Homo sapiens: one gene and its partner. The protein of the gene in region 2 purifies or fractionates together with the protein of the main gene of each other region. This does not show direct contact. Each region holds a gene or a part of one and is shown on either strand. Other genes may lie near its edges.

Region 1 (3,920 bases), 330 kb from region 2:
CTTCATTAGCCAGTACATCTCCACAAATAATACACTGTGGTTTTAGTACTTCACCATCAATTACAGCTACAAAACCAAACTCAATATATGAAGGATCATATTTCCGAGTGAAACTAGCATGAACTCTTTTGGTTTTCCCTTCTTCAGGATAACTTCTATTGTTAACATTTCTTTTATTACTACTACTGTGTTCAGAAAAGGCATGTCTTTTCTTGACAAAAAAGTCCAGTGAAGCTTGTTTCGCCATCTGAAATTAGGAATAAAAGTAAATAATATGAATTTTACTTTCCTCCTTCAGCTAACAGTGTTATACCACAAGTTAAAAACTAGATTTGATTAAAATAAAAAATTATTTTAAAGTTAAGTTATAAAAATAAATAAATGCCTATATTTTCTCAGAGTTTTATACATCTTTGGGTTATGGCTGATAAACGAAACATAAAGTATCACAGGTTGTAATGGGGACCTATTGTGTTTGACTAGTGTGTAACTGCCACCACATGTGACTCACCTTGAGAGTTTAACAATACCTAAATTGGTCTATATTCTATTCAGTAAGATGAGTCCATTAATCATGTGCTTGGATGTTGCAGTAATGTCAATTGTTATAAAGGTTTCTAAATATTTACGCTTAATTTTTATATTTATTTCCTTATGGACTGGAGTTTTTATACCAGTACTGCTCTACTGATCACATGTTGCGTACCACTAGTTTAAGTCATAAGTAACCTCCATATTTCAAAACATTAACCCTACTTCATAAAGCCTATTGATTTTAAATTTTTTTGGTTCTATTTCATGCTCTCCATTTAAATTCCCAAACTGAAGTCTTTCCCAACACAAACCCATATCTTCCAAGCAAATTTATCATCCCCTACCCCTACAAATACTTCTTCACTTGATTTGAGAAGAAGCATTAAAAGTAATTAGGCCTTCTTTGGGGGAAATATATCCAAGGTAATAAAAATGTGCTTTCATATACCTTGTCACACAACACTTATTCACAGTACACTGTAATGAGATTCTTCCCCTGCTTTCATCTACGGCAGATATTCAATCTTACCCAGTCTCCTACTTTGTCTGGTGAAAATGGTGTCCCTGATGGCTTTAGCATTTTGGAAGGTTTAACAGGCAAACTTCTTTGAATCTCATCATGTTTCCTCTTCATTGTGCTGGTTTCATAGCAAAGGCTACAAGTTATTTGCCGACCACAGCCCTCAGTCCCATGTTGAGAGGGCACTCCACAAATTGCATGGATATTTCCATCACATGATATACAACTATTAACACCTGTGCATTCTTTTTCACAAACTACACAGGATAAAAATCTTAGTCTGCTCTCAGGAGGGCTTTTTTCAGCCACCTTAGGAGTGACAGAAAGATTCTCTTCAATATCACTACTGTCTGTTCCAGTCTCAATGTTTTCTTCATACTGGGCTCTTAAAGTATTTTCTAACTCTTTGTCAGCCTGATCTAATTCATTTTCTGTATGCAAGCTGGCAACAAGTTCTTCAGTTAGCTGAGAATGGGACAAGCCCAGTTTAGCTTCAGAGCTAAATGCACTTTCACATGGAGTCTGTTGCATGCTTCTGTGATAGGGCTGATTTTGGGACATCTGAATGAACCACAAAAATTCAGTCCAGTGTGATGAGTTGTTAGTTTGCATCCAGGAGAAAATCCTCTTTCGGATATCCTCAGTTTGTTCTGCAGAACTCTGGCTTTGGCAGGTCTGAGACTTCCCATGGACAATTTTCAATTCTGGCCAAATATTACTGAGTTCACTGACAACCTGGCTTGAAAATTCCCTCCCATTGTCAGATTGTAGGACACTGGGTGCTCCAATAATTGTAAATATATCTAAAAGAGCATGTGCAACTTCCGTAGGCCTTTTAGACTTTAATGACCGCAAAAAAGTTAACTTTGTACAGAGATCTTGATAATGCAAAATAAATCTGTACTCCCCATCAGGATTCAACTGCATGTCTATAAGATCTACTTGGCATCTTGAACTAACTTCCTTAATTGATTTTGATGTTAGAACCTTCTTGAGTTTTGAATTTTTCTGTTGGCATGGTTTACAGAGGGTCAGATACAGCATTATAACTTCTTTTGTGATGTTCTTGTATTTCGCTTGTAACTCTTTCTCCATGCGAGTACGTCCACCATGTCCAATGCTGAGATGTGTATTATGCAGAATGTCAAATAAGTCCTCACTGTGTAAGTAATACCGTATTTTATCTGTTTCCCCATTTACAGCCTCAATTAGCTTCTCATTTCCTTGTACAAGGATAACATCAAATCTAGCCAAGCGACGGTAGTCAACTGATTCCTTTTTCGCCTTAGCTTTAGCTTCTTTCACTTCCTTTATCAACTGACAGTACTTTGCTTTAGAAAATATCTTAGTATTATTACTTTTGTTTTCCAGTAACCTTGCTAAGCTTCTGAAGAACTTTTCTCTCATGTTTTCTGGTTCAATTTCTGCTTCATTAGTATCTAAGCTACTGAGGTTATCACCACCCATGCTTTGAGACATCATGGAAAACCACAAAAATGACCCTAAAAACAAAGGAAAAAAATCAATTAGAATATTCAGGAATATAATTTAAAAGACATATATTGCCAAAGGAGCCAGTAGTGCTTGAGGTAGAAGTAGGGAATATGGACACACAAAAGGGGATACCATTTTCTTTCTTTTTTGAGACAGAGTCTCACTCTGTTGCCCAGGCTAGAGTGCAGTGGCACAATCTCAGCTCACTGCAACTTCTGCCTCCTAGATTCAAGCAATTCTCCTATCTCAGCCTCCCGAGTAGCTGGGACTACAGGTGCGCACCATGACACTTGACTAATGTTTTTATTTTTAGTAGAGATGGGGTTTCACCATGTTGGCCAGACTGGTCTTGAACTCCTGGTCTCAAGCAATCTGCCTGCCAGCCTCAGCCTCCCAAAGTGCTAGGATTACAGGCGTGAGTTACTGCACCAGGCCAGGGGGATACCATTTTGATTAAGGAATCCAACTTTGGTGGAATGAAGAGCGTAAATGAAACTCCAGCCAATAACAAAAAGTTTCAAACAATAAAGAGCAGAAAGCCAGGACATGAATTTCCAGAGCAGTTTTCAGGATTGAAGCACTGTTTTATGTAAAATAGGATGCAAATTAACATTTACTTGTTTGTTTACTATGCAAAGACTTTTTTTTTTTTTTTGTATTTTTAGTAGAGACGGGGTTTCACTGTGTTAGCCAGGATGGTCTCGATCTCCTGACCTCATGATCCACCTGCCTTGGCCTCCTAAAATGCTGGGATTACAGGCGTGAGCCACCACACCCGGTCTCAGACTTTTTTTTTTGGAGGAACCTCAGCAAGACAATAATAGATTTTTAAAAAAATCTCCACACTACACATTTTCTCTTTTATTCAGTCAGGTTAGCTATTACATCAACATTTGAGGAGTAAGTTCCAACCTAATATATTCATATCAGCTCCCTTTTAGGGCTATTAACTACAAACTCAATACAAATAGCTTCATTACTAATTTTAATAAGAGTACTGGATGAGTCAAAATCAGTGAAAAATTTCTGACTTAATAAAGCTTATTAAAAGAAATTTCTAGAATACTCATAATAACAGAAACACTAAGAATACTTCAAATTTGGCTAAGTGTTAAGGAAAAAAACTATTTTGGAAAAAGTAAAAAATAATAATTTGGAATTAGCATAACATCTCTAGATAGTTTTATAGTTGCTTGGAAAAATACTTTCACTCAAGTCAACATCATTTATACTATCAATTTGCATACCAAATAGTGAGACAGAGCAGGGACCCCTCTTAGGGGCCTGTCAGCCACCCCTAACCCCAAGCATGGTAATAACAGAAAATCTTGAGTTCCTTCAAGGGAAATTCCAGGCATCTAACTATCTTTAA
Region 2 (3,920 bases):
ACAGAGAGCTGTATTTTAAGACTGAGACTAAGAGAAATTTCAAACAATGGTGAAAAACTTTCCTAACCAAACTAGGACATAGTAAATCTGATTTTATTAAAATTGATGTCTAGAAAGAATCGGTTTTTTAAACAACATGGTGATCTCCATTCATTAGATATATTTAGGGAGCCTTCATCTATGGTAGCCAGTGTTGTAGGCACTGGGGAGAGAGCCACCAATAAGACAGAATTCTTGCTTTGATGGAGCTTACATTCTAGCAGGGAGGATAGAAAATAAATTAATAATATAATTTTAGATATTGTTAAGTGCTATGAAGAAAATAAGGCAGAATTTGTAAAGCCAGCCAGAACATTCCAGAGATAGTAGGACTGCTGCAAATAGAAGAGTGTAAATCTAAACCCTGTAAAGCCTGTGACTAGAAGAGTGAAAATCACTTAATAGGAAGCAGCTGTGTGTTCCATGCTGTTCCTCATCTGCTGTGAACATCTGGGCCGATTCCTAAGACATACAACACTTGGACATGCCATCCAACATGCAATCTTTATTTCTCAGCAGAGTTTCTGGCCTAAACCAACTTATTTTCTGCCCCTTGCAAATTGACTTATTGTAGGGAAACCTAAGGTTTCTTCTGCTTCTGAGTCTGAGCAAGTTCTATTTAAGCAGTCTTCCAGTCTTCCATTGCCTCCTTTCTGGACCCAGCCTTATTTGACTCCTCCTAGTTTTTCTTTTTCTTTTTTCTTTTTTTTTTTTTTTTTTGAGATGGGGGTCTCACTCTGTTATCCAGGCTGGAGTGCAGTGGTGAGACCTTGTCTCACTGCAACCTGTCTCCCAGGCTCAAGCAATCCTCCCACCTCAGCCTCCTGAGTAGCTGGGAGCACAGGCCCATGCCACTACACCTGCTAATTTTTTGTAATTTTGGTTCAGACAGGTTTCTCCAGGTTGCCCAGGATGGTCTCGAATTCCGGAACTCAGGCAACCCACCTGTCTCAGCCTCCCAAAGTGCTGCGATTACAGGGATGAGCCACTGTGCCTGGCCTCCTCCTAGTTTTTCATACCTGAAGTGGAAAGCATCCTAATATCTACTAAAGACATTTTAACCAAAACAAAACAAAAACAAAAAACCCTCTTTACTCCCCATCTCCTAGCAAAATTCAAAACCCAAAGGTCTTCAAATGGAAAGCTTTGTTATGTTGCATTCATTTCACCACTCCTACCAACGATTCTGCACGTGGTTTTTGTATATCTGCAGAGTGCACCAGACTTCTTTCGGCCCTAGGGCTGGAGCTGGTGGGAATCAGGCATTTTTGAAAGGAACACATTCTGTATAAACTTATTGGCAAGAACTTACTGCCCCAGTTTTTGAACTTGGATTTTGCAAGGTGGGGAGGCTGAATACTAGGGTAGTTCTCATCCAGAGCTTCTTTCTTTCTTAGTTCTCCAGGTTCCTGGGCTTGCCCAGGGAGGGTGCTGCAGAGAAGATGCAATGGTAGCTTCCAGGCTCACTCCAGGGTCCCAGGTGAGCTGGAGCTCCTCTCCCTCCCCAGCGCCCCATACCTTTCACTACTGTTGGGCTCCGCATTAAGTTCCTCCCTCCCCAGTCCTACCCCACCCCTATCCTAGATCTACATGAATTTGAGTTTTCTCATCTATCCCAAAGTTGCATATAATTGTCCACCTTCATTTTGGTGCCCACCTAAGAGGACTTTCCTGTTTCACAACAACCTTGGAGTTTTCTTTGTACTTCTCAGATCTTTCCTCCTACATTTCTTCGGTCAGCCTCTTCTTCAATGTGATTTTTCTCCTTCAACAAGGGCAGTTCCGCAAAAGCAAACTGAAGGTTTTGTTGGGATGGTCATTCTGTTTTGCTTTTTAAGATACAATAAGCTGTGCTGTTGGTGAGGGATATAAAGGCCTGGCCCTTGCCCTCAAAGAACTTATACTTGAAAGGTCAGATAAGGCATAGTTATCTTGAAGTTATTTATATTACAATATGAACAATCTTTTCTCAACCTAGATTTCAATTTACTACTCAGCCTTTCCTGTCCTGCTTGAAGATCTCAGTGTTTGAGGCTGTGTAGTATCCTTTTTTTCCCCTAATTTTTCTCACTTCAGTTCTAGATTTCATTGTATTTTTGAAGCTATTAATGTAAATGAACCCCTACTCTCACTTTGCCAAAGCATACTGCAAATCTTTTGAAAATTTTGGACATAGTTCCATTCCTTTTGCTGCATTGACCCTTGTCTTCCAAACCTTTTTACTTTCTGGACTGTTTAGATATTTATATGAAAGTACTTATCCTAAAATGTGTGTAATATTTCTTTCATTTGGCAGGTTTTCTTGATTAAGATGTTATTAGAGATAAAGCTAAATTGGTGTAGGTGTGCCACACTTGCTCCTTTTTAAAGAGCCTCTTTAAAGGGGATGTTCATTCTTTGCTTTGGGGGTAATTTTGGGCAAGAGGAGCTAGTTAGGACTACCTATTGTTTTAGGGTTTGCTGAAAATGGAAGATGTGGCCCTGACCCTCACTCCTGGGTGGACACAGCTGGATTCATCTCAGGTGAACCTCTACAGAGATGAAAAGCAGGAGAACCATAGCAGCCTGGTCTCCCTTGGTAAGACTGAGACACTAATTTGTCTTAAGATTTCTTGGCATTCTTTGCGTATTAGAACCTATTGGGCTGTTAGAAGCTGTTAAGCCCCCATTATGTTTGGATTCAGAATCACCATTCCTGAAAGCCTGTTACTGACTACTAGCTCCTTACTCCTTCTGACCTTGCTTTCTCCTCTGTCATGCCAGTGTTCTAGTTAGGATAAGTGGGGTGAAATTGATACAACTCCTTGTACAGGTCTGGCTCATAGGAGATGCTCAGTAAATGTTGATGTCCTCTTGTTCCTATCCCTGACTGAAGAGGAAAGCTGCGGGGAGGGGGGGGCCTCTTCAGGAAATGGGCCATGGATTCAGAACGTGAGAGCCAGAAGCAACCTTAGACATCAACTACAGACCCTGACCTTAGGGGTGAGGGTGCAGAGGCGTAGATTACCTCACTTGTTTGAAATCTCATAGCTTATTTGTGGCACAGTGGGGGCTCTACCTCAGAACTCCTAGCGCCAATGCCAGTTCTGTTTGAGAACTTTGCCTCTGCCTGGGCACAGTTAGAGATGACGGTCCATGTCATTGATCGATCACCAGTCACCAGTTTCTTTGCTTTTGCCATTTCTTGCAGGTGCTTCAGAAATCCTTCCACTTGCCCTGTTACTGTCACCCTCTGCTCACCCCTTTCAAAATCTAATCCTAGGTGCATGGCCCTGCTTACTATTCTTAGAGCTTAGAACCATCACATATGTCCCCTGCATAGTCCTGGGTCCTCACCATTTTCCCTCCACTCCCAGTTTGTACCCTTCCAATGGCCCCATTCTCATTCTCAGGCCTCCTTCCTCCCCAGCACCCCTGTTCTCCCTTTTTATTCCCATTCTTATTCTAGCACTTAAATCCTCATCCTGGGCATATATAGACTTCTGTAATTCTTGTCTCCCTAGTACTCATCACAGAGCTTTCCTCCCATGGCAGGGCATAACCCACAGTTGCCGGCCATTTGTTGTTTCAGGTGGTGAAATACAGACTAAGAGCAGGGACTTGCCTCCAGTCAAGAAGCTTCCAGAAAAGGAGCATGGGAAGATATGCCACCTGAGGGAAGACATTGCCCAGATTCCTACACATGCAGAAGCTGGTGAACAGGAGGGCAGGTTACAAAGAAAGCAGAAAAATGCCATAGGGAGTAGGCGACATTATTGCCATGAATGTGGAAAGAGTTTTGCTCAAAGTTCAGGCCTGACTAAACACAGGAGAATCCACACTGGTGAGAAACCCTATGAATGTGAAGACTGTGGAAAGACCTTCATTGGGAGCTCTGCCCT

Evidence for each region.
Region 1: the proteins of ZKSCAN4 (region 2) and SCAND3 purify together in Homo sapiens (affinity purification with mass spectrometry; 2 studies listed by BioGRID and IntAct, with this or other methods). This does not show direct contact.

The regions. Positions count from the first base shown.
Region 1 is NC_000006.12:28,573,581-28,577,500, forward strand, and holds part of SCAND3 (SCAN domain-containing protein 3), read right to left. Parts: intron 2,557-3,920; coding exon 1,064-2,556; intron 248-1,063; coding exon 1-247.
Region 2 is NC_000006.12:28,245,666-28,249,585, reverse strand, and holds part of ZKSCAN4 (zinc finger protein with KRAB and SCAN domains 4), read left to right. Parts: intron 1-1,436; coding exon 1,437-1,519; intron 1,520-2,493; coding exon 2,494-2,617; intron 2,618-3,610; coding exon 3,611-3,920. UniProt on the Homo sapiens protein: May be involved in the transcriptional activation of MDM2 and EP300 genes.